5 linked regions of the Homo sapiens genome follow. The protein of the gene in region 4 interacts with the protein of the main gene of each other region in a pairwise test. Each region holds a gene or a part of one and is shown on either strand. Other genes may lie near its edges. The genes, in order: C1GALT1, UBIAD1, MFF, SLC7A14 and BNIP2.

Region 1 (6,337 bases), on a different chromosome or scaffold from region 4:
AGTTATAAAAAAGATTTTAAAAAATTAATGTGGCAAAAATTATTCTAAATGTTATCTGGAAAAATAGGTGAGTATCACTGGAAAACTCTTGAAAGGGGAACTGGGGAAGGGGAAGAGACAAAGTTTACTACATATAAAAATATATTACCTTAAAAAAGGTAATGAAAACAATTTGGTATTTATGCTGAACAAACTCTCAGTCTGTTTAAAAAAATGCATTTGTTAATACTAAAGACAATGTGCTGAGAAACTGTTCTCTACATCAGACTGTCAGAAACTATGTTATTTGAAATTTTATAAAGTGAGAATGGAACATCCCACTCTCGCACTGATGGTAGATCATTATGAAACAGAAGCAACCTCACTTTGCAACTCAGAGCTTCAGATAAGGGGTTTCCAGACACAACATTCCACATGTATCGCGATTTTGTAGTCTCCAGGGAATCAGAATCCTGAGTCAGCTTCTCAGCCCAGGCCTGATGTTTATTAACCCTTGACACACAGTCTTGCCGTGCTTTAAGCTTATCAAATATTGTTGCGTTTAAACTTTATCCAAACTCCACCATTCTCCAAAATCCTATAATAACCCTGGTTCCTTCTTTAGAAATGCTGACATTTCCTCTGCTGTGCAAGTCTCCTTCACTGCAGCAAGCTAATTAACCTTTGTCAGCCTACAGATGTGTCCCTGGTGGTCTCTACCAGATGAATCTTATAAAGGGACTTCATCAGGTTGAAATAAAGACTCTATGGAAAACAAAAATTCATGTGGAAATTTAATACATAATAAACAGCATTTCAAATCAAGAAAAAGGTGGCTTATTGAAGAAATGGTATTGAATTAATTAATCTTTTGGGGAAAAAAAAACAAAACCAGCTGGATCCTTACTTTCTAGTAACAATTTCAAATGTTTCTAAGATTTCAGTATTTTAGAAAATGGAATTAAAACAAAACTGGAAGAAAATATATTTTTGCATTTTGATATTACGAATTGAGATCTCTCCCACACTCAGAAGCTGTGACTATTAAAACACTATGAGTTTATTCATTGGATAAACTTCTGGCAATGAAGTCGCTGGTTAAAGGGCATATTTCTTTATGAAATATATTTTTTTAATGTACAGCAAAAAGAACCAAAAAGTATCATAAATAATAAAAAAGATAGTTAACCAAATACAAAAACAGATAAAGAAAATAAAAGATTCACAGTAAAAAATGGTCAACGATGTTCAAATTTCACTCACAAAGGTAAATCAAATGAAGAGATATTATTTTTAACCTAACATATTGGCAAAACTTTTAAAGTTTATTAACAGCTGTTATTGACACAGATACAAGAAAACTGGTAGTCCTGTATTCTTTCTCATAATACATACTTTTACTGTCTTTTGGAAGGGCATTTCACAACATCTTTTTAAATTTTTAACTAATTATGCCTTGATATATCACTTCATGATCAGAAACTTATTTTACAGATATAATCATAGAAGTCAGCCAAGATGCTCGACAGCCATAACCATAAGACGTCTGTCTGTTGATGAGGAACCAGTTTTTTAAAAAAAAGATAGAGCCATAGCATAGAATAGTAGTAGCTGTTAAAAACAATGATCTACATGTGCTGATAGGGAAAATCTTTGTGCTTTTGACAAAGGTTACTTTTTATTGTTAATAAGGTATACTGGGTATTTTTTTAAACATCAGAAAATGTAAAGAAAACAAAAGGAACAAACCTAAACAAATGAAAGAAAATCATAGACAGAAAAGAGTAAATTTTCTTTACCATCTCTACCACTATCTCTCCCCAAAAGTAACTGCTTTCGTATCGTTGGGTAATGCCTATATCATCACATATGTATGTTCAGCTTTTAATTTACATCAGAGATCATGCTTATCGGTTAGTCTGCACTTTAATTTACCCCTTCACTTATTTTATCCATAACACAATGTCATTCATTTTAACAACTGTATAAGATAAAAGGTTTATTTTTTAAGACAATGTACCGAAATATTTTCTAGTATGATTTCACTTGGCTTTTTAAATGTTTCTGTATATATTTTAAAATCTGTTAAGATATATATACATATGATATTTAACAAGAGCTATCTCTGGGAACTAGCACTGGGTGGCATGAGCAAGGAAGGACAAATTTTTTTTTATTTTATAACCTTTTGATGTTTTAATTTTGCATCGGGTACACACATTACTTTTCTGATAAAAATTAAATAAAGGGAGGCAATTTTTATCTACAGAGTGAAATAATATGATAAAAATTAAAGTCCACTAATTTCTCCACACTTGTCAAACAAAATGATCTCTTGATCCTTTCAGACTTCTCCAAGTTTCAGATTCACATACACAAATGCCTGCTAAATACTTCCACCTGGACCATAGGCATCTCTAATTCAACACCTCCAAAGTGACTCATTACTTTCCTCTGCTCATTTTACCTTAATTACTGGTAATTACCTAAATTATTCACCAATGGGTTCCTATTTCACTCAGAGCCACAGGATTATCTAAACTACAAAGTACACAGATATTCTTAATGCTTCCCTTATCTTCACCCCAAATCCAATTACCAAGTCTTGCCAACATTACTTCCTAAATATTATTCTAATCCATTGTCTCCTCTCCATTTCTAGTATTTATCCTATTTCAGACTCTCCTCTCTCCCCACAGGCTATTACAATATCTAACCTCTCTGACTCAAGTGCTATCCCTCTTTAACTCATACCCCGTCACCAGAATGAGCTCTCTAAAATGAAAAGCTGACCATGTCACCCCATGAATCCTTTCACGGAACTCCACTGCCTACAAGACAAAAACTAAACATTTTTTATTAACATGATATATAAATAAAGGCTATGACCTAGAGCCTGTCCAGGTTTCCAGCCTCGTCTTTTGCTATTCTGTGCCTTATAATTTATGTCTGCTTCAGCAATCCTGAACTGTCTACAGTTACTGAAAGGTTCCCAATATGGTCAGCTCCTCTTCCTACTGTCTTCTCTGACTACAACACTTGCTTCCCACCAACCTCTGTAAATCCCATTAAACTAAGGTTTCTTAACCTTGGCGCTACTGACATTAAGAGCTGGATAACTCTCTGTTGTGGAAGCCGTCCGGTCCTCTGTAGGATATTTAGCCAGCATCCCTGGCCTTTACTCACTAGATGCCAGTAGTATTCCCCCTAGTTGTGACAAACAAAAATGTCTGTAGACATTGCTAAATGTTTCCAGGTAACAACCTCTCCACTAATTTGTTAAAACTGTTTCTCACATTTACATAAAAGATCTCCCCTGTCTCTACTAAAAATACAAAAAAAAAAAGAAATTAGCTGGGCATGGTGGCAGGTGCCTGTAGTCCCAGCTACTGGGGAGGCTGAGGCAGGAGAATGGCGTGAACCCAGGAGGCAGAGCTTGCAGTGAGCTGAGATCGCGCCACTGCACTCCAGCCTGGGCGACAGAGTGAGACTCCGTCTCAAAAAAAAAAAAATCTCAGGAAGAATAGAGATAAGACTACTTTTAACACTAATTGCCTTTGAGGAGGACAACTGGGTAACTGGAGTGGGATGAAAAAAACTTACTTTTCAAACCATTTACTGTGCGTTTTTAGTCTTGTACCTCTTCTGACTTCTCCACTGCTATCACCCTGGTCTGAGCAACCTCTCTGTCTTTTAACTACTCCAACAACATTCTAACCAACTTTCCCCTTCCTTTAGCCTTTGCTTCTTTGGCCCATTTTTACCAATAGCCACAATGATCCTTTTAAAACTGAAATCAGATCACATCACTCATTTGCTCAAAACCCTCCCGTCTTCCTAATCTTAGAGAGCCAAAACCTTACAAGGATCTACCCACAATCTGCATCCTACTCCACCCCTTTCTTTCTGATCTCTTCTCCCCAGTATTTGGTGTTTTTGTAGGTCAAAAATGAACAAACAGCAGCAATTTCATAGATTGAACCTAATACTAACTGCTTGTCATTCCTCAAACGTGCCAGGGTCTTCACACTTAACTGTTCTCTGCTAAGAACACGCACCCAGGTGCTCATATGGCTCACTCTCCAACTCCTTCAGGTCTTTACTTTTCAGGAGTCTTCACTGGCCACCCTATGCTTACCCACAGCACCTATTAATATCAAATATTATTTTACTTATTCATCTTGTTTACTGTCTCTTTTCCATCTTGATCAGTGGTTCTGAAACCTGAGTCTCCATCAGAATCATTTGGAAGGCTAGTTAAATAAAGAGTTCTGGGATGGAGCCTGAAAATTTCAATTTCTAACAACTTCCCAGGTGATGATGATGCTGCAGATCCAGGGACCACATTTTTAGAACCCGTGTTTCAGAATGTAAGCTCCATGAGGACAGAGATTTTTGCCTATCCACTGTTTTATCTCCAGGACCTGGCACATAGTAAGCACTTGCTGTGGTCTGAATGTTTGTCTCCTCCAAAACTCATGTTGAACCTTAATCACCACTGTGGCAGTATTGAGAGCTGGAGTCTTTAAATGGTGACTGGGTACTAAGGGTTCAGCCCTCATGAATGGGTTATCATGGGAAAGGAACTGGTAGCTTTACAAGAAAGAAAGAAAGAAAGAAAGAGTTCTGGGCTAGCATGCTCGGCCCCCTCACCATGTGGTGCCCTGTGCTATCCTCAGGACTCTGCAGAGTCCCTACCAGCAAATGCCCTCACCAGATGTGGCCCCCTGAACCAGGACTTTTCAGCCTTCCTAACTGTAAGGAATAAATTTCTTTTCTTTATAGATTATCCAGTTTCAGATATTCTGCTAGAGGCAACAGAAAACAGATTAAGACATCACTGATATATGTAAATAAATGTAAGTGTCCCATCCTGTTTCCACTATAGCCTCTGATTCAGTCTATAATGCTAAACATTTACTGAACGATGTAAAAGATAAACCGTGCAACTGTTACAGGTTAAACTGTGTCCCCACAAAAGATAGGTTGAAGTCCTAATTCCAGTACCTCTGCACGTGACCTTATTTCAAAATAGGGTCTTTGCAGATGTAATCAAGTTAAGATGAGGTGATTAGGGTGGATCTTAATCCAATACGACTAGTATCCTTGCAAGAAGTGGAGCACACCATCTGAAGACAGAGCCACACAGGGATTATGTTGTGATAACAGAGTCACAGACTGGAGTGACATAGCTGCAAGCCAAAAAATGCTAAGGATTGGCAGTAACACAACAAGCTAAGAGGCATGGAACAGATTCTCCCCTCGAACCTTGAGAGAGCATGGCCATACCTACATCTTGATTTCAGACATCTTGCCTCCAGAACTGAGACAATAAATCTGTTGTTTTAAATCACCCAGTTTGTCGTATTTTGTTACCGCAGCCCTAGAAAATACAATGACCAAGAATGCAAATAACTATGCCAAGCTGTATTTAATTTCAAATTCTGCCTATTATCCAACATCTAGCCGTTTAAATGTGCTTTAATATACAGGTTTCCCATTCCAGAATCTCCCTAATATTGCCTCTCGTTGCCCCCAACACGCCCCTTCAATGTGCAAGGCAGCACATACTACAGGTGCTAGATAATTTATTTAGACTTTCCTTTCAGTTTCCCCCACCTTCTTATGTGCTTCCCTAAATCACAAACACCAGTTTCTTTATATATTTTTTTTCTCCCTCTTCCTATTCTCACATATTACAGATTTTGGCATATATATTCCCCTTGGACATTTGAATTAGCTGCAAAATAATTTAAGTACACATTGGAGTTCCTCTCTAACCAGATTTTAAGATAAAAGGCTAACTTCTCATTTTATGGAACAAGTCTCCTTCCCGCTCCCCACCTTTCTTCTTTTAAAAGAATGACTTAATCCCACTGAATTTGAAGTAAAAAGATTTTTGTCATACCTTTCTTTCAGCCTTGCTATAGTTTGTACATCAGCGTCTTTAATCAAATCTTAAGAAATCTTCTAAAAGAAAAGATGGTTGTATTGGGAAGCTTAAACTTTTAAGCCTATCTGAATTTAATTTCAGCATCAAGCTTTCCATTTTCTACTTAAGGTTTATTTATAGCTGCACTGTCACAAAAATTCCAATCAATGATTTTACCACACAAAGACTCTAAATTACCATGGCTTATAATGTTAAACTGCATAATGCAATTTTAATTTTAGCACAAATCAATACACAAATAGTAGCATGTGCCTAGTGACATACTTTTTCATATTTCTATTAGGTAAACAAGAACTCATTATGTGTACCCTGAAATAAATTTGTGATACAATTTTAAGAATAACTGGATATTGAATTTACTCAACGTAGTCTAGTCTTAAAAAGCATAATTATGAAAAACTTTAA
Region 2 (5,706 bases), on a different chromosome or scaffold from region 4:
CCCCTTCTCTACTAAAAATACAAAAAATTAGCTGGGCATAGTGGCGGGTGCCTGTAATGCCAGCTACTCAGGAGGCTAAGGTGGGAGAATCGCTTGAACCCAGGAAGCAGAGGTTGCAGTGAGCCGAGATTGCGCCACTGCACTCTAGCCCGTGCGACAGAGTGAGATATATATAAAACATATATATACAAAAATTAGCTAGGTGTGGTGGTACGTGCCTGTAATCCCAGCTACTGGGGAGGCTGAGGCAGGAGAATGGCTTTGAATCCGGGAGGCAGAGGTTGCAGTGAGCCGAGATCACGCCACTCCATTCTAGCCCAGGCGACACTGAGACATAGTCTCAAAAAAAATAATAAATAAATAAATAAAGACAAGTGATGTCAGATTCCAGTCACTGAGAAAACTCATACCCCCCTATCTCCATGGCTGTCACATCATGGCTCTCCCCCTCTCTGATGTTTATGCTGTTGATTTTGGGACCTTAGTGTATTGCTTTGTATTTATTCACACTACATTTTTCTTTTGACCCATCAAAGCAGCCTTTTGATTTATGAGGCTCCTAATTGTCATTTTGTAAGCTCTTCCTCCAAGGTTCATGAAACCTTTCATTTTGGCTGCCTCATCCGCGTCATTAATAACAGGTGTTGAATCCAGCGGAGCAAAGGGCAGAGGACAGGGCTCCAACTGCTACTAAGGGCTCCTTCCCAGCTGCCACTGACATGCTGATCAGTTAGCTCTCTCCCACCGCCTGCTCAGTCTCTCAGGAATTTATCTAACTCCACTGTTATCCATCCCACGTCTCTCTGCCTTGTTCATAGGATATATTGTCCAATGCCTAGCTGAAACCCACATGTACTCAATCTACCTCATGTTCTCCATCTAGCAGCACAGTGACCCTATCAAGAAAAAGAAAAATGAAACGAGGTTAATCTGGCCTGACTGCTGACTGGCTCTTGGCAAATCCACTGTAGCTACATGCAGCCCTCAACGTTTTTTGTTTTGTTTTTTTTTTTGAGACAGTGTCTCGCTCTGTCGCCCAGGCGGATGTGCAGTGGCGTGATCATACCTCACTGCAGCCTCGACCTGCTAGGTTCAAGCGATCCTTCCACCTCAGCCTCCTGAGTAGCTGAGACTACAGGCATGCACCACCACGCCCAGCTAACTTTTTAAAATTTTTTTTGTAGAGATGGGGTCTTACTACGTTACTTAGGCTGGTCTCAAACTCCTGGGCTCAAGCAATCCTCTCACCTTGGCCTCACAAATTACTGTGATTACAAGCGTGAGCCACCATGCCCAGTCCCTGCTGCCTTTTCTAAAGGCCTGTCGAATCTGGTCAAACCCTACCCAAACTCATCACCAAAGACCAGGTGCCCCTCTGCACAGCCTGAATGTCCAATGTCACTGCCTTGGTCTCCCTGAGATTTACAAATCAGAGTTCACAATCAGACAGTAAGTATGAGGAAAGCAAAAACCAGAAGCCAGACCATTGGTGAACATTTTCTTTCTTCTCTTTTTAATTAAGAAGTCTAAAGAAAACCTTCATTGACTCAGGGAACATAATACAAATTATGGTGACCTGCGTATAAAACCTGGCAACAAATTTGGCCTTTGGGAACATTTATATATAAAAATATGCATTAAAATCCGCACCAGGGCACAGTGCAGAACTGATAGCCCCGATGGGAGTGACCACCAAGGCATACGTGGTCCGTGGACGCAGGGAGCCCTTGGTCCTCCTGCCTCAGGGTGAGCCCTGCATGAGAATGGCCTACTCCAAGGAGAGGTCAGAAGGCAAAACCCCTGTGAGCACCAAAATGCCACAAGCCTGGTGTGAAACAAAAATGGTGCTGGGAAGGACTGGGGAGAAGGTCATCTTTCTTCCCCTTGTCTCTGGGCTCTGCCCACTATTAGAAGATTCTGGCTCTCTGCTAGACAAACCACCTTTGATTTAACTTTAGAGGAACTTTTGCAATTTTCTTTTTCTTTTTTTTTTTTTGAGACGGAGTCTTGCTGTGTCCCCCAGGTTGGAGTGCAGTGGCATGATCTCAGCTCACTGCAAGCTCCGCCTCCTGGGTTCACGCCATGCTCCTGCCTCAGCCGCCCAGGTAGCTGGGACTACAGGCGCCCGCCAACACGCCTGGCTAATTTTTTGTATTTTTAGTAGAAACGGGGTTTCACCGTGTTAGCCAAGATGGTCTCGATCTCCTGACCTCGTGATCCGCCCGTCTCGGCCTCCCAAAGTGCTGGGATTACAGGCATGAGCCACCGCGCCCGGCGGAACTTTTGCAATTTTCAAACATGTTTTTTTCCAAGTAAACCAATCAATTCGAACTCAAGGTTCCATATCATCATTAGCTTGATCTGAAAGATTAAGAACTAGTTCTTACATCATTTTCTGCAGGCCATGACCTTAAACGCCTACTAGAATGGCTATAATCACAACAGAAAACAATGATGACCCATTTCCAATCTATAGTCCTGGATCAAATGCAACTGAGCAATTCTGGCCCAGAAATTATACTTCACAGACAATGCAATGAAACGCAGCCAGGATAAATGCTGGAATTGCCCCACTCTGAGTGTGATCTCACTAAAGCCCTCAACTATCTTTCCACAAAGCCCTGGGGAGAGGCAGGGTCAATATTGCACATCTGTCTTCAAGGATGAAGACACAGCCCCTTAACTGGCAGGGCCCATCACTCTGGCTGAACAGAGCTCAAGACTGTTTGTCCACTGGCTATTCATTCCCTGGGTCCCTGCTCTGCCCATCCTGTGGCTCTGTGGAAAGTGGCAGCTGTCCCTGACTCGCTGCTAAGCTATTGCTCAGTCTGGCTCCACAGATGGGAAACACACAAATGGGAACACCACAGAGGTGGAGAGGTGGAGGGTAGGTGTGGGGAGCATCAGAAGATGCAATAGGGAGGGAAAAGCCCTGTGGGCTTTGAGTATCCCACAAGGATGGCAGTGCCTCTACCGTTTCAGGGCTCCTGATAGTTACTGAAAGGGCTGGGAGTCCTTCCTGTCACTCTAGTAGATTCAACAAAGGGAAAACAGCCACCCTACTGATTCCTATCCAAAAGCAGTGATTTTCTCAGTTGCCTCCAGAGTGGTTTTTTTTTCCCTCCCAGTCCTTGGCTTGTCTTGCTGCAGGGTAATCTGACACTTTTCCTCAACTGTGGCAATAAGTGAAAGGAGAGAGAACAAAAGCATCTGAATCACAATTTAGGCAAAAAGCTGACAGCCACACAGGCTGTTAATGAGGGACTCTCTCTGTCTCAGGCAGCGTATCTCAGGACACAGGTGCTGAGAATAAGAGACAGGTAGCCCCTGTGTTAGTGAGGCCTGGCACCAATCATAGCACATCCTACGAGACGAAGAAAGCAGGACAACACTCTGCCTAGTTATTAGGGTCTTTTCGGGACAGGAGGCCAAACTGGGCAGCTCCTTTACAAAGTCTGGAGACATTTTGTACAGAACAAGGAGGAACTAAGTCCACTTCACTGCAAAGTGACCTGAGAACACCCTCTAGTGGAAATTATTAATAAAACAAAGACCATGCGCCTAATTCACCTTCTGATACAAGAATGGTTTTTAAATTCCCCATAAAATGGAAAAAACAAAAAACAGAAAAACAACATATTATCTTTAAGAACACAAAAACAATTTTTATAAGGCAGGAGTTCCCACCCATGCTTAGTACCCTGACTGCCAAATCACATTCCTTCCTCAGAGACTCTGACTTTAATATATTCTAAGAAAGGGAGACATGTCGTGGGGGGAGCTACTTGTCCCCTTAAATTTTGGGCAGACTGCCTGCTGGTGCCAGAATGATGCCAAAGACATAGAAAAGTCCCAGCAGGAGGTTGAGCTTGGCAGTCCTCTGGGGCAGTTTGTTGAAGGCCTGGCTTCGAAACTGTCTCTCAAGGGAGAAGGCCATGGGAATGGTAAGCAGGGGGAGTGCCAGGCTGATGGTGCAGTGTGTGGCCAGGATGCTGAAGACCAGGTAGGGCAGGAAGAGCAGTGTGTTGTAGAGAATGTAGGAGAACGTGGGGCCGATGAGGATGGCCAGCGTGACGATACCAGCCTCCCGGTCGGACTCCATGTCCCTGGTGTTGTTGGAATGGAGAATGGCCTCGGTGCTGAGGGCGAGGGGGATGGCATAGACCAGTGGGAAGATGGCCAGGGACCCCACCTGGATGGCGTAGGCGAACATCACAGCCAGCGGGCCAAAAGTGATGAGGATGATGAGGTCTCCCAGAGCCACGTACTTGAATCCAATTCCTGCGGCCAGAAAATCCAGAGAGTTGGTGTGAGACCAAGGCTGGAAATTTAGGGACTGTTCACCAGTGAAGAGGCAGGCCACTTCCGGCTGAAAATGGTAAATCCTTAGACTGTGCAGGTGGGCACTCATTTCATCCCTTAACCCCACAGAGCAAATTCTGATTTCTTCTCCAATGCCACAGGTGCAGAGAGAATGCCCAGTGAGGCCTCAAGTCCCTCTTCCCAGGTTCATACCCAAGTTTCCCTTCCTACTGTCCCCCAACAGAGCTCTGCAACATAGCACACTAGGCACCCACTATACTCTTAGTTCAATGGGAGAGCCCAGGAAGGATCTAAAGGTCTTAGAATCCAGTTCTTTGCTATCTTTCACCCTTCACCAACCCCTGCAAGACCCCGTGAGATCAATCCCTCACAGAATAGCCACTCTGGCCTTCTACTTTTCCACCTCCTTCCCCTACAATCTCAAGGCATCTTCTGGTTTTAAAAACGGCCAGTGAATTTCAGTGAAATTTCGGGGTCCTTAAACCTGCACCCCTGCGATAAGCAAAACAGCGAGGACAGGAGAGTTATAATGCTGCTTTCCTCCTCTGTCTCCTATGAGATTGAAACTAAACCACCCCTACCTCCTGTTTCTGTCCTGCTCATCTACTTCAAAGCCTGTCTAACCCACTTCCTTCAAAACTATCCATTCTCTCCATCCCCGGGGCCACCCTCCATCCCCCTTACCAAATCTACCTCATGGTCATCTTATGCCTGGGATACTGCAACATCCTCCAAACTGGTCTATCAGCTTCCCCTCTCATAACCCCTCCCCCTCTCCATCCCTAATCTAATCTCTAAAAAGGCGTTAGAGTGAACCTTTAAAAATAGGAATCTGGCTGGGTGGGCACAGTGGCTCACACCTGTAATCCCAGCACTCTGGGAGGCCAAGGCGGGCAGATTACCTGAGGTCAGGACTTCCAGATCAGCCTGGCCAACAGGGTGAAACCCCATCTCTACTAAAAATACAAAAATTAGCCAAGCGTGTGGCACACGCCTGTAATCCCAGCTACTCGGGAGGCTGAGGCAGGGAAAATGCTTGAGCCTTGGAGGCAGAGGTTGCAGTAAGCCAAGATCATGCTACTGCACTCCAGCCTGGCAGACAGAGCAAGACTCTGTCTCAAAAAAATTAGTAAATAAATAAATAAAGGAATCTGACCACCCCCTCCCCCAACATACACTTAAACCCTTATCAACCACTCATCCTGGGGATAAAAGTCCCAGATCTTTAACCTGGCTCACCTGTGGCCCAGCCCTACCTCTCCTGCCTCACCTTGAGCTCTCCTCCCCTCTTCACACAGACTTCTTCCAATCCGTCAGAGCCTTCAGACACCCCTCCCTTGGCCTGGCTAACTCTACTCACCCTTTAAGACTTTAAAGACCATT
Region 3 (6,337 bases), on a different chromosome or scaffold from region 4:
TACATGAAGTAATTATTTAGAAAAACATGGGTACAGAAAATATCCTGAGAAAACTTACAAACGAGATAAAATGCTAGTGCTTCTACTCACAGAGAATCATTTCTGACCAGCTGTCCATTTTGGCGAACAGCATTTTCACTCATAGACCGCTCTCTTTTTAGTCTGCCAACTGCTCGGATCTGTTAAGGCACAAAGAGAGGGAAGGAAATAGAAATATTCTTAGTAGGCTAGTAGCTGCTTAGCATCAAAAGAACCTCGATACAAGGCTACTCAAAAAACTTACAACGAACTAAGAAAAGGCAACCAAGAATTGCTGCCAGGCAGTGTATTACTGACAGACTTGCTTTAAAAACAAAACAAGACACACACACACACACACCCTACTTACTATAATGCAGATAAACAGGAATGTCTATTTACTTTAAGAACGCTACTCTAGTTTCTTTTTAAGTATCAATTTTACTTGGTACAATTATTATTTGTTTAACCTTATGGTATATACTTATTTATAAGAACAATTTATAAAAGTGTTTACAGGCACATATAGGAAATGGAGAGCATCTGTATTATAAATAAACCTTCCTGGCTTCTACGGTTGTAACAAATTAAGATTTGGTTGAATATTTGAAAACTAGACTAAAAATGTATCTAGCTTAATGGTTTTGGCATTCCAGAATGGCTGCAATCTCTAATCCCACATGCTCTTCTTATGAAATGTATCTTTGACCTTCTTCATTAAGAGACAGGATCTGTTTCTTTCCCCTGAAATTCAGAGGGCTGGTGACTCCTATAGAAATGATGCAAAGTGACTTCTGAGGCTAGGTCATAACAGTACAGCTTCTGCCTTTCTTTCCCCAGGTTGCTCATATTTGGAAGAATGGCACCATGACACAAGGAAGGCCAAGTAGCCACACAGTGAGGCCATGTGTAAGTGCACCTGCCAACAACCCTAATGGAGGTCCCAGACAACAGCTAGTACCAAGTGACATGTGAGTGAGCAAACCTTCAGATAACTGCAGATCCAGCTGTTGAGTTATCCTTTGCCTTTGAGACTTCCTAGCTTAGGCCCCAGACATTGAAGAACAGAAACAAGCTTTTCCCTTCACGGCAACTGCAAATACCTAACCCACAGAATGCTTGAGCAAAACATAGGCTTGTTTGTTTTAAGCCACTAAGTTTAAGATGATTTGTTACACAGAAATGGATAACTAGAACAGTGATAATCATTAACTTTTCTGCTTATTTGAAAATACCTTTTTTTTTTTTTTTGAGATAGGATCTTGCTCTGTCATCCAGGCTGGAGTGCAGTGGCATGCTCATGGCTCGTTGCAGCCTCAGCCTCCTGGGCTCAAGTGATCCTTCCATTTTAGCCTCTGAAGTAGCTGGGACTATAGGCACACACCACCGCACCTGGCTAATTTTTGTATTTTGTAGAGATGGGGGTTTTGCCATGTTCCCCAGGCTGGTCTCGAACTCCTGAGCTCAAGTGTTCTGCCCACCTTGGCCTCCCAAAGTGTTGGGATTACAGGTGTGAGCCACTGAGCCCAACAAAAATACTAAAAAAAACAAAACAAACAAAAAACCCCCCACTAAAATAGCCATGGCAACATTATGGTTTTTTTTTTTGTTTTTTTTTGAGACAGAGTCTTGTTCTGTCGCCCAGGCTGCAATGCAGTGGCACAATCTCGGCTTGACTCACTGCAAACTCTGCCTCCCGGGTTCAAGCAATTCTCCTGCCTCGGCATCCTGAGTAGCTGGGATTACAGGTGTGTGCCACCACACCTTGCTCATTTTTGTATTTTCAGTGGAGACGGTGTTTCACCATGTTGGCCAGGCTGGTCTCGAACTCCTAATCTCATGATTTGGCTGCCTCAGCCTCCCAAAGTGCTGGGATTACAGGCGTGAGCCACTGCGCCCGGCCGACATTATGGTTTTTAAAAAATTAAACTTTATAGTAAAAAAACAAATAGTGTGTGAATTAAGGACTTGAAAATTAAGATTTTCAAAATATCAATCAATATTTATTGATGTTTTTGGTTGGGCACGGTGGCTCACACCTGTAATCCCAGGTGGATGTTTTTCTTTTCTTTTTTTTTTTTTTGAGACAGAGTGTCACTCTGTTCCCCCAGGCTGGAGTGCAATGGTGCTATTTCAGCTCACTGCAACCTACACCTCCTGGGTTCAAGCAATTCTCATGCCTCACCCTCCCGAGTAGCTGGGATTACAGGTGCATGCCATCTCGCCCAGATAATTTTTGTTATTTTTAGTAGAGATAGGGTTTCACCATGTTGGCCAGGCTGGTCTTGAACTCCTAACCTCAAGTAATCCACCCACCTTGGCCTCCCAAAGTACTGGGATTACAGGTGTGAGCCACCATGCCCGGCCTGGATGTTTGTTTTGTTTCAATCTGAGATTTTTTTTTTTTTCCAGATAGGGTCTCATTGTGTTGCCCAGGATGGAGTACAGTGGCACAATCTTGGCTTATGCAATCTCTGCCTCCCGGGTTCAAGAGATTTTCATGCCTTAGCCTCCTGAGTAGCTGAGATTACAGGTACACACCATGACCAGCTAATTTTTGTATTTTTTGGTAGAGATGGGGTTTCACCATGTTGGCCAGGCTTGGTGATCTCTTGACCTCAAGAGATCCACCCACTTCGGCTTCCCAAAGTGCTGGGATTACAAATGTGAGCCACTGTGCCTGGCCTCAATGCAGAATTTTAAAATGTCTTTCAGAATCATCCTTCAGTGGTTATGCACTTAGTTTTATTCATCCCGGAGGCTGAGAAATAGTTTCCTAAGTTCAAGCAGCTTCCTGGAAGTTGGGTCACAGTGTCTAGTGCTACATAGTTATATAACATGTAGCACTAGACACTTTGCATGCTTGCATACAATTCTCCTTTAATATGCTTACACCCCAAGTTAAATTTGATTGTTCATAAATTCCTGGGCAAGTAAATGTCCTCTAGGTTTTTTGATGGCTGATTCTCTCAATCTGTTCAAAGCCCACCTCTTCTTCAGGAATCTACTCAGAGCCTTCGTGTTTTTCCTCTATACTCACCCCCATTTTCTGTGGGACTTTTATGCAGAAGGGGGAAAGGTACAAATTATCAATGTAGACTGAACAGTTGGGATAAATATCTTCCCTCCCCAACATGTGCATTGTCCAAAATTTAAAATCACGAATCATGGGGAGAACAGTTAAGCCAGTGACTGCGGGTTTTGGGAAGGACACATAGCCCAATTTGTCAGGAGTGACGAGACCATGCTTGTGCTAAGAGGGCCATAAAACTGTAGCTGTACAAAGAACGCAAGTGTCCATCTCTGAATTTTCCATGCATGAATGTGTAAACATATATACAATTCAGCTTTTCCTCTTCTCTCCAGACTTTTGCTCCATTCTGCTCATTGCAGTCCCAGCTCCTCTTTCCAGAAGTGATGAGGAAGGAAAAAGAGCTCAAGAAACCATCACCAAAGTGTGATCAGACCCATATTCATGAAGTTCTTGATTTTCTAAGCTTCCACAGGACCCTTTTAAATATTCACTGAGTCCCTGGGAGCCCTTCTGCATTTGTTTTAGGATATGTCATATAGCTATGGTTTTTTGCTTCACATCCTTAGCGTTGTCATATCAATTGAACTGGGCACCAATAACCATCTGCTACTTCTTTACGGTAGAATTACAGGTCTAGGGCCTTCTGCTAGACATTCATGGCTTTTGTGTCATCCTTCAGATTCTAAGGCTGCTGCTTTCTAAGTATAATCTGTGTTAAGGGTGGATCTAGCTAGATATTTCTTCTACTCCTCCAGCTCTGGCTGTACACTTTGGATATAACTGCTGTAGAATTTGGCATCCTGTGGAGGATGCCATTTGATGGCTTCTGTATAAAGCTGGCATGGCTTGGAGATAGTTCCATTTCTGAAACCACTCAATGCCTTTACTCTTCTCCTCCAAAATCAGGTCAGATTTTATATATGCCAACTGATTTTGCTCTTTCCAGATTAATTCCTAACTATTGACGATTCTTGTGTATATCTGGGGTTCAGTGCTCTTCCAAAGATTTATTATAGAAATGAATAGTATTCTCGTATTTCTCCTCTTTGAAGTAAGAGATGCCAACTTGGGCAAAAGCTTTTACTCTCTATCTTTAGACCAGTCTGTTTTTTCTTCCAACTTCAATGGCCTTCTCACAAAGCTCTTAGGGTTTATTGTAGCTGATTTTTTCAAAGCATATCACGGCTTGATTGATAGGATTTAACGGCAGAGTCCACATCTTTGACTTAGTCACACTGTTCAAGGTTGTGTCAAATCTTCTTACAGGCAGCATTTTCCAACTCTTTCTTTACAGTTCTTCTTTCTTGTTCTCTGGAAGATCCTTCCCCACTGGCTCCAGTTCGGATTCCTTTTTGAGAAGAGCTGGTAATGTCAGTGTTACAGCTTCTTTCTCCTCATTCACACTGCCTAGTCTACTGTAGGAACACTGAAAACTGTCATGACTTGGGCATTTTGTATTTCATGCCCAGATCACATGGTTTATTGAACAGTTGCTTTGTTAGTTCCCAGCAGACAGAATCACCAAGCAATGGTCTTATCTTAGAGCTGATTTCCAAATATTGGTGGAGATTAGGCATATTGAAAGTGTTTGTCAACTTCCTCTCTTCCAGCCAAGCCTCACATTTTTAAACTGTCTTTGAGCTAAGGGATTATTTATGTTATGTTTTAAGCCCTCCTCAAGGGCTCACCTGGATTCTTTAAGCCAGTTTAAGAACTCAAGTACAACTGCTTTCTACAAATTTATCCCTTGCATCAATCAGGCTTTCAGACAACAATTTTATAGGCTTCCTCATAAGCCTTCTCCTTTCTTGAGATAGGTCAGTGGTTTTCAGTAGGGGGTGATCTTGCCCTGTAGAGAACATTTGGCAATGTCTGGAGGTATTTTCTTTTTTATTTTAAAACACACATAACATACACAATTTTAACCATGTTGAAGTGTACAATTCAGCGGCATTTAGTACACTCACAACGTTGTGTAATCATTACCACTATCTAATTCCGGAATATTTTCATCAGCCCAAAAGGAAACCCCATACTGATTAAGCAGTCACTCTCAAGTCCCCTCTCCTCTAACCCCCTGACAACCACTGCTCTGTATCCTGTCTTCATTCATTTGGCCACTCTGGATATTTCATGTAAGTAGAAAAATGCAATATATGGCCTTTGTTGTCTGGCTTCTTAAACTTTACATGTTTTCAAGGTTCATCCATGTTGTGGCATGTATCAGTACCTTTTTTTTTTTTTTTTGAGAGACAGAGTCTGGCTCTGTTGCCCAGACCGGAGTACAGTGGCACAATCTCGGTTCACTGCTACCTCCACCCCGGGGTTCAAGTGATTCTCCTGCCTCCCCCTCCAGAGTAGCTGGGATTACAGGCGTCCACACCACCATGCCCAGCTAATTTTTGTATTTTCAGTAGAGACAGGGTCTCACCATGTTGGCCAGGCTGGTCTTGAACTCCTGACCTCAAGTGATCTGCCCACCTCAGCCTCCCAAAGTGCTGGGATTGCAGGCATGAGCCACCGCACCCAGCCAGTACCTCATTTTTTTATGGCTGAATAAGAGTTACTATATGGCTAGATGATGTTTTGCTTATCCATTCATCAGCTGATGGATATTTTACTTGCTTCCACCTTTTTGCTATTACAGACATTTTTGGATATCATGACTTGGAAGACGGTAATGGCATCTTGTAGATAGAGATCACAAATGTTGCAAACATTCTACAGTGCAAAAAGGTGGCTCTCACCACAACAAGGAATTTTCCAGTCCAAAATGCCAACAGTGCTGAGGTAGAGCACTATTGCTCTACCTCATTCTAGCATCCACTGCAGAATGATACAGAGCAAATGTTCTGGGGATCTCACTTTATCGATTCTGAGTTAACACCTGAATGAATCATCAATGTTATCAGTACTCAGGCCCTTACTGCTTCTCTATTTCAGTCAATTTCTAGAAGCTACTAGAACCCTGGCTCCCTTACCCCTTCCTCCCTTGCTCACTGCAGTTGAGTGCTTCTTGAAGGCTACTGGACCCTTCTATAAGCTTGTATAAACTTGAAGTCCAAACCATCATCTTTGCTTTCAATAAGCAGCTGGTATTAATCTCAGAAACTCGTCTTTCATTTCAGGATCTGGCTCCTGCCACAGGATTTTAAGTCTCTCCTAACAATAACATTTATATATATTGAGCTTTTAACACGAATTAGAACATGCATGATTACATTTAATTCTCATAACAATCTCATGCACTTGGCATTATTCTTATCTTTATTTCAGAGATACGCC
Region 4 (6,337 bases):
TATACTGCAAATAAAATAAGCATCCCCAACCCCGTTTTGCAGATGAGAAACTGAGACATAAAGTAGCATGACTTCCCATTAGATCAGCTGCAGGGTCATGGAGAGAATCTCCGCCCAACTTCATCCTAAGCCTGCTCTTCCTGGCCATACCATATTAAACAAGCCTTGTTGTTATTATAGTCAACAGAGTCGTGGTGGTATTTTAAAAAATAATCAGCAATAGTGGGAGTTGGTGGGGTTGAGGTGGGGGTGGGAAGGATACCTTCTCATTACCACCCAGTCTCCCTTTCTGCTTCGGCAAATGTCTGTTTTGGAAAGTTGATCCCAGAGTAGTCAAAATAAAAGCCCTCTAGGCATAACAAAGTGCCTCAGCTATCTGCAGTGGGCAGAGCTTCCTGCTGGAAAGTGCACCCCAGCAAGAGGCAGCTCCACCCAGCCTGAGGTCAGGTGGCCCACCTCTCTCGGTTCTAAGTATGGAGCTTCATGGAGAGGACAGGGAGTTCCCAGGAACTCTGGAGATAGGGGACCTGGTCTGCAACCTAAGTGTGTGCCCTCAGAGTTGGAAATATGCTGTTATTGTTTGCATTACTCAGTCTCTTCAGAGTTGAGTTTTTGTTCTAGGATTTCTCCTGTATGATCAAGACCTCCCTTTCCCACCTCTCTTTCTTGTAGGTTTGGGGTCATTTGCTTAATTTTCACAGGATGGATAAACACAGGGGGGTGAGCAGGTATGTCACCTGCTGATGCCAAGGTACCCTAGTATATGAACGCAAGCTTAGCTTTTGTAAACCTTCCCTGGAGGCACCTGGGTGGGACAGGAACAGCCCTCAGGTTAGAGTTAAGAGATATGAGTCCCAATGCTATTTCAATTACTGATTTATCACACAGTTCTTAACTTCCCTGGGATGATGGATGAGAAAGTGCTTTTTTTAATATATAAAGTGCATTACAACCACAAAGTATTTAATATCATAAAGAAAGCCCATTCAATTGCTAAAGGCATGATTCTTGATCTTGTCTAGCCTGAACTTCTCATAGACACATTTTCCACTGGGGAACTTCTGTCTAGAAAAGAAGCCAAAGCCTCCCTTTGAATATTTCCCGTCACTGCAAACAGACTTTCTTTTTTTTTTTTTTTGAGACGGAGTCTTCACTCTGTCACCCAGGCTGGAGTGCAGTGGCACAATCTCAGCTCAATGCAAGCTCTGCCTCCCAGGTTCACGCCATTCTCCTGCCTCAGCCTCCGGAGTAGCTGGGACTACAGGTGCCCACCGCCATGCCCGGCTAATTTTTTTGTATTTTTTAGTAGAGACGGGGTTTCACCGTGTTAGCGAGGATGGTCTCGATCTCCTGACCTCGTGATCCACCCACCTCCGCCTCCCAAAGTGCTGGGATTACAGGCGTGAGCCACCGTGCCCGGCCTTTAAACAGACTTTCATAAGACTAACCACCATTACCTTTGACCAGGACAGGCATGCAGCCCACGTGCCCCAGTCCAACCATGTCTGTGTTAAAATATTGAAACTTTTTTTTTTTTGAGATGGAGTCTCACTCTGTCGCCCAGGCTGGAGTGCAATGGCGTGATCTCAGCTCACTGCAACCTCCACCTCCTGGGTTCAAGCAGTTCTCCTGCCTCAGCCTCCCATGTAGCTGGATTACCAGTGCCCGCCACCGTGCCCAGCTAATTATTTTTTTTTTTTTAGTAGACGGGGTTTCACCATGTTGGCCAGGCTGGACTCGAACTCCTGACCTCAGGTGATCCACCTGTCTCGGCCTCCCAAAGTGCTGGGATTACAGGCATGAGCCACCGTGCCCAGCCAGAATATTGAAACACTTCTGTGTTTACTGCTAACTAGTCACTTTCCTGCACACACCACGCACCCCCACCATGACCCATCAACTCAAAAAAAATAATTCCAGCCCCACAGAGGAGCCTCCAGGACACTGCTGCAGCACAAAGGCTGACACCCTCTGATTTTTGCCATCACACCTGCCTTTAGTTTCTTACTGACATAAGTTATGTAACTACAAAGCAATGGCTCTAAGTTATCTGCTTTTAAGGTACAGCAGAATTAAATATCCAAATAGAATAAATAGTATTATTTGTGAATCAGCCATCTTATTCTTGAGGCTTGGTTTCAAATGACTTCTGGCTTATAGCAAAATCAAATCCACCCTCAAAAGATATTAGATTGCCCTCCGCAAGAGTTTACAAAAGTATATGATGCCGTTCCCAGTGACCATCTTGATTAGCGGTGCCCAAAAACTACTTCAAGCAATGATGGCATCATAGGAATACGTGTGTAGCCTCATAAGGTGAAGAGTTTTCCACACACATGTAATAATTTAGATAAATTTTAATACTGCTGGATATCAGATAATATTAAGAAATTATTATTAATTTTTAGTTGTGATGATACTGCTTTTTTTAGAGATGCATACTCAAATATTTACAAATTAAACCTATGATAGAAGGGATTTGTTTCAAAACAATCTGTAGAGAAGGGGTCAGGGGAGGGAGCATGAAGGGAGCTGGTGATTCATGATCCTATTCACTCCACTTTTGTATATGTTCTTCCAAATAAAACGTTAAGCCAAATTGTTTTCCATCCCTGGTAGGCGGGAGATGTAAGAGGGATAGAAGCGCCCTGGATTAGGGCATGGGGAGACCTGGAAGGATTCACTGTCCACCTGCTCACTGTGTGGCTGTGGACCTTCCCTTATGTTTTCTGTGCCCACTGTCCTGTTGTCCTGTCTGTGAAGTGTGCAATGCACATAATCACTCACACACACACACACACACACACACACACACCCCTTCCCAGACAGGTTAAAGGGAGTCTAAACAAAACAAGATACTGTTTGTGTAACATTTTGAGCTCTTTGGGACAAAGGTGCAACATCAACCATCCATCATTATCCTAACCCAGCACACAGAAATGCTTTGTGAAGTTTAGTTTAGATGATTCAGGATTCCCAGAACCCCTACAGATTTTTCAGAAACTACCTCATGCTTCATTCTCTAAGCCAACTAAAAAAAGGAGCAGAAACAAAACACCCTGCTTCCACACAGGAGGCGTGGAGCAGCTCTGTTTACTCCTCCGACACAAAGCCCTTGTTTATGTGGGACAGATGGTAATACGTTTCTCTTCTCTTCTCTCTCTCTCCCTCCCTCCCTCCCTTCATCTGTTCCTCTCTGTTTCTTTGTCCCCCTCCATTTTTCTTTTCTCCAATCCTTCTCAGTTTCACACCACTTTTCCTGAATTGACTCAAGGGCCAGCAAGAAAGATAGACACACAGAATGCCAAGCCCTAGGGGAACGGCTTTGCATCTACTATTTACTCTACCAGGCTGCATGCACACGGTCGTTTCTTGTTTCACAGTACTCACATTTGAAATGCATTTTTGAAGACAGAGTGATACACCTTTGAAACTCCAGGGGGTTCAGGGCAAACATGAAAAGACCCATAAATATTTATGTGGCAAGTTTCCATGGATTGTCTTCACAAAGTAAAAAGTAACCACAGTCAATATGTGAGAGCGCGCAGACACAGACACACACACATACACACACACACACACACACACACACACACATGTTCCTTCCAGGCCTGGCCACTCCCAAAGAACACATGTAAACCTCTTATCACATGTTTACTGCAGTGGGCATAGTCTGTAAACCAGCCTGGGGGAGGGGAGAGGAGGTGTGAAGGACTAGACACGCAAGAGACTTCTCTCCCTCCATGTATAAAGCTGGTTCCTCTCCTTCTCAGACCCAGGCAAGTCACTTATTCTTTCCCAGCCTCTGTTTCTTCTTCTGTAAAATGAAGGTTTTAGAATGCATAGGTGATCTATAGCATCTTTTCCAGCTCTAAATATCTATGACTCAAGGTTTTTAGAGAATTCCCATAATATGAATCTATCTGACACCCAAAATACCTTGTGGGGGCAGGGACAGGTCTGTTGGAATCGACAAACCAGTGATGAGTGATGTCAAACCAGTGACTGAACAATGACCTTTGTGGTGGCAGAGGAGAGACGTTTGGGGCAAAGGGAAAAGAAAAAGATGGTATTAAGTTCAGTAGGGAAATGAGTCGTCTATAAGCAAAGTCAGAGAAGGGCATCAGAAAGGAAAGAATTGGCATAATAGGTACCAAGCAGGAGTAGGAGGCAATATTTGGCATCTGCCTGGGTGTCTAGAAGAAAAGATGGCAAAAAAGCAAAGCAGTGCAAAAGGAGGTGTGCACAGGTCCTGCCTGGTCGCCTGAAATCCATTCTCAGATGCCAAACATGCTTCAGACAGAGGCATTCTCCAAGAACCAGCACACTGGCACTCTTAGAAGAGGCCTTAATGTGATGCCCTGTTCTACACAAGGATAATAACCATCCCCCATAGCCACCCCCCACCTACAGAAAAGAAAGAGTAAATACCCTGCTTTTAAAAGATGAATCATTATTTGAGCACTAATAGCTACATCTGCAAATAATTAACTCTAGGATTTATTACCAATTAGGACTATAAATCTGTGCTTACTTTGGCTCCTGGAAAGTTGATTTCACTGGGGAGTGTGGGAGGGAGGGGGGACAAAGTCATTTGAGACAAGGAGGGAGAAATCCAAGCTTAAAAAGGCACACTTCAAATTCAAAAGAGAGCAAGATTTCTCAAGCACCACAGCAGCAAAGCAGGCTTGACTTGCGGTTCTAAGCAAACCAGCCCAGCAGAAGCCTGCAGGGTTAGCAAAGTCAAAGAGACTGGTGCTACTCAGAGGAGGATGTTAGGGCCCGGGAAGGAGGTTGCATACTGTATGGACCCCAGTGCCTAGGCCATAGTGTGGGCTGAGTGGGCAGTGGAACACTGTGCCCATCAGGCACAGTTCATTATCTCAGGGACACTCTGACCATTGGAATCACCTGTGGAGTTTTAAAAACATACCTATGCTTGGGTTATACTGCAGACTAATTAAATCAGAATCTCCAGGATGGGGCTAGGGTATCAGAGTGGTTCAAAAAACACCCCCAGGTGACTTTCAAGTGCAGCCAGGGTTGAGAACCACCACTTACCTCATTTCATCCTCAAGCACTCCCATGTTAAGAGGGTTGCTATAGCTCTCATCGTTTTACAGAGAATGCTGAGGAACAGAGAGGCTAAGTAATGGGACCAGGGTTACACAGCTAACAGTGATGAAGGCAGGATTTGAACACAGAGCCCACAGTCTTACTTATCATGTTCTATGGACTCCAAGGTTATGGTTCCCAGACTTCCAGGCCCTGAACCTTCACAGTCTATTCAAGATAGAAAATGGGGACTCAGGCCAGGACTGATGGCTCATGCCTGTAATCCCAACACATTGGGAAGTGGAAGCAGGCGGATCACTTGAGTCCAAGAATTTGAGACCAGCCTGGGCAACATGGTGAAACTCCATCTCTCAAAAATACAAAAATTAGCTGGGCGTGGTGGCACATGCCTGTGGTCCCAACTACTCGAGAGGCCAAGGCAGGAGAATCGCTTGAGCCCATGAGGCAGAGACTGCAGTGAGCCGAGATCATGCCACTGCACTCCAGCCTGGACAACAGAGTGAGACCCTGTCTCAAAAAAAAAAAGAAAAGAAAAAGAAAATGGGTACTCATAAATGACTTTTATGCATGTTTTTTAAATCATAGAAATGAAACATTAGCATATATGAATGCTACATATTAACGAGGGGGGCAAGTTTCTTTCCTTTGATTGGGATGACATCAACACAGAGGTTGCACTGGACATTTCACGCTTATCAGGAGTTCTCACCCATTCATTCAACAAACATTAAGTGCCAATTTTCTGCAGAGTCTACGACCCTGTGCAGATAATCACACAACAGATGTTCTAAGGGACATAATAGTAGCATGCACTAGACACTCTGAGAGCACACAGAAGAAAGCAGGCAGCTTGGAGTGGCCATGATATATCACGCCTTTAGTGAGTGTAAAATGTCAAGGTAAATCACAGGATAATATATGCATGCTGCTAAGAGGTGAAACATGAGATAGAGTCCCTAACTGGAGGCAGAGAATAATCAAATCTTATAAGAACGTTGGGAATAAACTGTTGCTGATCCATAAATAGTTCACCCAGGGTAGAAAATGCAAATTCCTGGCTGGCAGCTATATGAGTGTAATGAGCCCGACGTCAGCATGGGAGGTGGGGACTGAGGTAACCTAGAGACCCTGTATCCTGTCTAAAGAGGCAGCCAGTTCTCAACACCAGCCAAAAATCACCATGTAGAAATGTGGATGCAGTGTTGTCAGACCTTTTGACTTTTCTAGGAAAATCTGTAAATATGGGTTACTTAACGCAAGA
Region 5 (6,337 bases), on a different chromosome or scaffold from region 4:
AGGCAAAACTCAATGTAATGAAATAGGAAACATACTACATTCTCCATCCTTTGCCAAGACGTAAATAATAGGAAAAAAAGTGTTCAATGTGGAGAAAATTGCATCTTATAAATAAGGAGAAAGTCTTCAATTAAATAAGGAGAAATATAAAGCTACTTTGTAAGTTTGAAGAATTAAGGTTATTCTTTATAGAAAAATCAAAATTGATTTCCCTCACAATATTCTAAAATGCTATCTTTAGAAAACAGAAACCTGCCATGAAATAAATAAATAAAATTTAAAAAATAAATGGTGTTTTAAAATAGCAACAGAAGGCTGGGCGCGGTGGCTCACGCCTGTAATCCCAGCACTTCAGGAGGCCGAGGCGGGTGGATCACCTAAGGTCAGGAGTTCGAGACCAGCCTGACCAACATGGAGAAACCCCGTCTCTACAAAAAATACAACATTAGCTGGGCGTGGTGGCGCATGCCTGTAATCCCAGCTACTTGGGAGGCTGAGGCAGGAGAATCGCTTGAACCTGGGAGGTGGAGGTTGCGGTGAACCGAGATTGTGCCATTGCACTCCAGCCTGGGCAACAAGAGTGAAACTCCGTCTCAAAAAAAAAAAAAGTTAAAAAAAAAAAATAGCAACGAAAAACAAAGTTTGATTTCCTAAAGCCATTATAAAATTTTTTCAGACTAGCTTTCAACTTGTATTTGTATTACCTTCTATCAATTTGCTGATAACATTTCCTGAGCCATCCCAGACTGGGCATTTTTCTTCGAGTTGTTGCACCATTTAAATAAACTATCATGTAGTTTTCTGCTACTAATAGCTCCAAAGTGCCAATAACATATCTGTAAAAAACAAATTAAGTTTAAGCCTTAAAAATCACTGTGCATAACTGAACTAGGTTCTCTAAATTGTACCATTATACAATTCCTTCCTCTCTCCTACAATGAGAGCAACAATGAAAATGCTCAAACCGCATTAGCTAGTATTACGATTATCTTATTTTTTAGAGATATATTTTGAAATGTTTCTAGGTGAAATGATTTGCTCCTGGGATTTGCTTCAAACTTGTAAACTGGGGGTTAGAAGTGGGAACAAAGTATAAATTGGTAATTGTTGAAGTGACTGATACATGAAGATTTGATATACTTCTCTTTACCCCTGTGTATGTCTGAAACTTTCCACAATACGGTTTTTAAAAACTGCACTAACCTGAGAAATAGAATGACCTTGTGGAAAAAGAACTGATTTGGCTCAATTATATTGGCCTTCTAGGGGTAAATGTAATTTAGCCACATGATTTTGAGACAAAAATCACTTCTTTACACTTAATGTGCCTGCAAATGTTAACATAAAACAGTTGGGACAGGTAAGGCATGGTGGCTTACTTGAGCCCAGGAGTTTGAGACCAACCCTGGCAACATAGTGAGACTCTGTCTCTACCAAAAATTAAGAAGTCAGCAGGATGTGGTGACATGTGCCTGCAGTCCCAGCCACTAGGGAGGCTGAGGTAGGAGGATGGCTTGAGCCCGTGAGGTCAAGGCTGCAGGGAGCCGTAGTTGTACCACTGCACTCCAGCCTGGGTGACAGAGTGAAACTCCATCTCAAAACAAAACGAAACAAAGTTGGAACAAATAATCTGAGATATATTTCCCAGTTTTAAAATGACAATTTTTCTCTTGAATTGGAAAACTATCGTTCCATAATATCAAAGAATAAGGACTCATCTAGTCCTGTATCTAGTAACAAATACTTTTACTTTAACCTTCATTCTGTTGTTCACAAACTTGCACGTGAAAAGATCTGGGATATTTATTTTTCTGAGACAGGGTCTTACTCTGTCACCCAGGGTAGAGTGCAGTGGCAAAATCACAGTTCACTGCAGCTTTGACCTCATGGGCTCAGGTGATACTTCCACCTCAGCCTCCTGAGTAGGTGGGGCTACAGGCCCATACTACCATGCCTGGCTAATTTTTTGATTTTGTAGAGAAAGAGCTTTGTCATATCGCCTAGGCTGGTCTCCAACTCCTGGACTCAAGTGATCTGCCCACTTCAGTCTCCCAAAGAACTGGAATATTTATAATTTTTGAAAAGGTTAAGTTTCTTAAGGTGTAGATCTAATTAGCTCACAATTCTGTCCAAATGTTTTTGTTTAATATATACTTACTTAAAAAGATTGTCCATCAGGTATCTATAGTTAGGCTGACTACTTTCAGGCATGAAACAGACAGCAAACACAACAATGGCATTTAATCCATCCCCATAATATCCTAAAAAAGAAACCAAAGACAGTATCACCAGCACGATTTTACTCTTAGGCATTTTTAGAAGACATCTGTATGATTAGTAAATTATAAATAAGAGTTTACTTTTCACAGATTTCTGTATTAAATGTATGTTTTGTAAATCTTATATGGTCTTATATAGAATTTTAATGTCTTCTTCCCAAAAAGAGAACAGTAAAATTTAAAGAGGACGGTGGACAGAAAAAACAAAAAAACCCAAGACCACTTAAATTCGCATATTTAAAAAGCCAGCCCTATTTTAGCAGGTAGACAAATATAGTGATATAACCCAATACAATACAGACACAATACAATAACTGCAATGTATTTTTATTTATTTCTATGATGCTTATGGTTAAAGTGGGTGCTTTTTTTTTTTTTTTAGATGGAGTCTCGTTCTGTCGTCCAGGCTGGAGGGCAGTGGCACAATCTCGGCTCACTGCAACCTCCGCCTCCTGGCTTCACGCGATTCTCCTGCCTCCCGAGTAGCTGGGATTATAAGCGCACACCACCGTGCCCGGCTAATTTTTTGTGTATTTTTAGTAGAGATGGGGTTTCACTAAGTTGGCCAGACTGGTCTCGAACTCCTGACCTCGTGATCTGCCTGCCTCAGCCTCCCACAGTGCTGGGATTACAGGCGTGAGCCACCGTGCCCGGCAAAGTGGGTGCTTTTTTAAATTTTTTTTTAGAGGATAGCATCTTGCTCCATTGCCCAGGATGGAGTGCAGTGGCGCAATCACAGCTCATGCAGCCTTGAACTTCTGGGCTCAAGGGATCTTCCCACCTCATAGCCTCCAGAGGAGCTGGGGATACAGCGCACACAAACATGCCTGGTTAACCTTTATAAAATTTTTTTTGTAGAGATAGGGTTTCACTGTGTTGCTCAGACTGGTCGTGAACTCCTGGCCTTAAGCAATCCTCCTCCTTTGGCCTCCCAAAGCACTGGGCATGAGCCACATCGCCAGAGCCATAAGTGGGTGATTTTTAAAAGGTAAGTTTATATTTAAAAATGCTAGCATTTTGTAGAAATTAGGACATTAAAACTAAATTAGGCCGGGCGAGGTGGCTCATGCTTGTAATTCCAGCACTTCGGGAGGCTGAGGTGGGCAGATCACTTAAGGCCAGGAATTTTGAGACCAGCCTGGCCAACATGGCGAAACCCCATCTCTACTAAAGATATAAACAATTAGCTGGGTGTGGTGGTGTGCACCTGTAGTCCCAGCTACTCAGGAGGCTGAGGCAGGACAATCATTCAAACCTGGGAGGCGGAGGTTGCAGTGAGTCGAGACTGCACCACTGCACTCCAGCCTGGGCAACAGAGCAAGACTTGGGTCTCAAAAAAAAAACAAAAACAAAAACAAAAAAACAAACTAAATTACATCTCTGACATAATTTTCAGTAATGGAAAACAGCGCTAAAATATGTATGTTTCAACAGCAGTCTTTAGATATTAAGCCAATATTTAGTAGCAAATACTTCTGCTTTAACCTTCATTTCTATTGCTTACAAATTTGCACATGAAAAGATTTGAACATTTCAAGAACATCAGAATCTTCACTACCTTTCTTAATCACTCAGTCACAAAATATATTAAGTGTGGTAATGCAATAAAATAAGGTGGTCTTATTTTCCCCTATAAAAAAAGTGCTATTTCTGAAAGATAAGAGATTTAAGCCATAAATCAGGTCTTATAATTTGATTCCTGTGAACTAGCTGAATAATGTATGTCTGTGGACTTCCTGATGCAGATTACGCCATTTTCTTCATCTGAGTACGATTAAATTAGGCAGAAGAATGCAACTACAAATATTCATGTGATTTGCTTTCAGATGAATGAAGACTGTAGAAATAAGCAGGGGAATGCATCTGGCAGAGAGTAAATCAAGTGGAAATGACCCTGAAAAAAAATCAATCTGCTTGACCCATATGCCCTCCGTCCTGTGTTAGGAGGATTTAAGGTAGTATGACATGCTCTACAGTGAGTTGTGTTCTGACTTACCACTAACATTCTAGCACTATTTACAATGTGCCTAGGTTAACTTCTATATATGGTACTGTTAGATTGAAAGGATTTATAACTTAAACTTTTATGGCTTTTCCTATTTCTTAAGGGCAGGGACTTAAGCCTTGTATTTTTGTATATCCCATAAGTATGGAAAGTGGGTGCTGTATAGAAGTGTGGAGTGAACTAGTTCTCTATTAAAAAATAATTTGGCCTGGGCACTGTGGCTCATGCCTGTAATCCCAGCACTTTGGGAGGCTGAGGCGGGCAGATCACAAGGTCAGGAGTTCGAGACCAGCCTGGCCAATATGGTGAAACCCCGTCTCTACTAAAAATACAAAAATTAGCCAGGCGTGGTGGCGTGCACCTGTAGTCCCACCTACTTGGGAGGCTGAGGCTGGCGTATCGCTTGAGCCTGGGAGGCAGAGGTTGCAGTGAGCCGAGATTGCGCCACTGCACTCCAGCCTGGGTGACAGAATGAGACTCCATCTCAAAAAAAAAAAAAAGAAAAAAAAATTTGTTCACGGTTTTAAGGCAAATTAAGAGTTAAGGTTAAAAAGTCCAAGTTTTAGGGCCGGGCACGGTGGCTCATGCCTGTAATCCCAGCACTTCAGGAGGCTGGGGTGAGCAAATCACGAGGTCAGGTGATCGAGACCATCCTGGCTAACATGGTGAAACCCTTTCTCTACTAAAAATACAAAAAATTAGCTGGGCATGGTGGCGTGCACCTGTAATCCCAGCTACTCGGGAGACTGAGGCAGGAGAATCCCTTGAACCGAGGAGGCAGAGGTTGCAGTGAGCTGTCACGCCACTGCACTCCAGCCTGGGTGACAGAGCAAGACTCTGTCTCAAAACAAAACAAAACAAAAAGAGTCCAAGTTTTACTTATATCCATAAATGACTTCTACAAGAATGTTCAAAGCAGTTTTGTTTATAACAGCCCAAGCTGGAAACAACTCACATGCACATAAAAAAAAACGGATAAGCAAATTATGGTTTATCCAAGCAATGGAAAACTACTCAGCAATAAGAAGGAATGTACTGTGGATACGTGCAACAACATGGATGAATCTCAAAAACTTCATGCTGAAAAGTAAACAAAAGAGTGCATAGGATGATTTTAGTTACTATATATGAAATTCTAGAAGAGGCAAAACTAATCAGGGGGTAGATATGACAGTGGCTACCGAAGCTGAGTATTCATTGCACAGGGGTACTAAATAATTCTTCTGGGACAATGAAAATGTTCTACATTTTTAGGGGTATGGGTTTTATATATATGGGTATATATGGTTATATAGGCATTTGTCAAAACTCATTGAACTGCACACTTAAGATCAGAGCATTTCACTGTTTATAAATTAGGGAGACTGTTCAGTCCCAGTTTTGGGTAGCCTAGAGACAGTTTAAAAAATTTTTTAATTTTGAGACAGGGTCAAAAACCAAAACAAAACAAAAAACTAGAGTGCAGTGGGATGATCACGGCCACTGAAGCCTCATCTTCCCAAGCTCAAGCTCTCTCTCCTCCCACCCCAGCCTCCTAAGTAGCTGGGACTACAGGCATATGCCACCACTCCTGGCTAATTTTATTTATTTTTTTATTTTTTTTATTTTTTTGTGGAGACGAGGTCTATGTTGCCCAAGCTGGTCCTGAACTCCTGGGCTCAAGTAATCCTCCTGCCTCAGCCTCCCAAATTGCTGGGATTACAAACCTGAGCCACCGTGCCCAACCTGACAGTTTTCACTACAAATTCTTTTGTACTTTTTCAACTTACTGTATGCATATAATCATTTTTAAATGGTACTTTTATTCTTTTACTTTAAACCTGTCATGTTTCTAAAATGAATGAGAAATGCTTATTATTCTTTCAAAATTACATAATATCTCTAGGCAGAGTTTCTAAAAGTATTTAGAATTCTGATATTGCATGAAACGGCTAGGGCAGGCGAGCGCAGTGGAGTGCCGCGCGGTGCGGTGCGGGCGGCAGAGTTGGGGTGTCATGGAGGATGAGCGGAGCTTTTCGGATATCTGCGGTGGCCGCCTGGCCCTGCAGCGCCG

The links.
Region 1: the proteins of SLC7A14 (region 4) and C1GALT1 interact in a two-hybrid assay, tested with the Homo sapiens proteins (one large-scale study listed by BioGRID).
Region 2: the proteins of SLC7A14 (region 4) and UBIAD1 interact in binary tests that used the Homo sapiens proteins (3 or more experiments, as listed by UniProt).
Region 3: the proteins of SLC7A14 (region 4) and MFF interact in binary tests that used the Homo sapiens proteins (3 or more experiments, as listed by UniProt).
Region 5: the proteins of SLC7A14 (region 4) and BNIP2 interact in binary tests that used the Homo sapiens proteins (3 or more experiments, as listed by UniProt).

Annotation. Positions count from the first base shown.
Region 1 is NC_000007.14:7,184,409-7,190,745, reverse strand, and holds part of C1GALT1 (glycoprotein-N-acetylgalactosamine 3-beta-galactosyltransferase 1), read right to left. Parts: intron 5,950-6,337; exon of another isoform or gene 5,888-5,949; intron 5,363-5,887; exon of another isoform or gene 5,269-5,362; intron 1-5,268. UniProt on the Homo sapiens protein: Glycosyltransferase that generates the core 1 O-glycan Gal-beta1-3GalNAc-alpha1-Ser/Thr (T antigen), which is a precursor for many extended O-glycans in glycoproteins.
Region 2 is NC_000001.11:11,284,219-11,289,924, reverse strand, and holds the end of UBIAD1 (ubiA prenyltransferase domain-containing protein 1), read right to left. Parts: intron 4,282-5,706; coding exon 3,794-4,281; 3' UTR 1,491-3,793; downstream 1-1,490. UniProt on the Homo sapiens protein: Prenyltransferase that mediates the formation of menaquinone-4 (MK-4) and coenzyme Q10. MK-4 is a vitamin K2 isoform present at high concentrations in the brain, kidney and pancreas, and is required for endothelial cell development.
Region 3 is NC_000002.12:227,334,134-227,340,470, reverse strand, and holds part of MFF (mitochondrial fission factor), read right to left. Parts: intron 180-6,337; coding exon 91-179; intron 1-90. UniProt on the Homo sapiens protein: Plays a role in mitochondrial and peroxisomal fission. Promotes the recruitment and association of the fission mediator dynamin-related protein 1 (DNM1L) to the mitochondrial surface.
Region 4 is NC_000003.12:170,467,569-170,473,905, reverse strand, and holds part of SLC7A14 (solute carrier family 7 member 14), read left to right. Parts: intron 1-6,337. UniProt on the Homo sapiens protein: Imports 4-aminobutanoate (GABA) into lysosomes. May act as a GABA sensor that regulates mTORC2-dependent INS signaling and gluconeogenesis. The transport mechanism and substrate selectivity remain to be elucidated.
Region 5 is NC_000015.10:59,670,479-59,676,815, forward strand, and holds part of BNIP2 (BCL2/adenovirus E1B 19 kDa protein-interacting protein 2), read right to left. Parts: intron 2,262-6,337; coding exon 2,159-2,261; intron 837-2,158; coding exon 705-836; intron 1-704.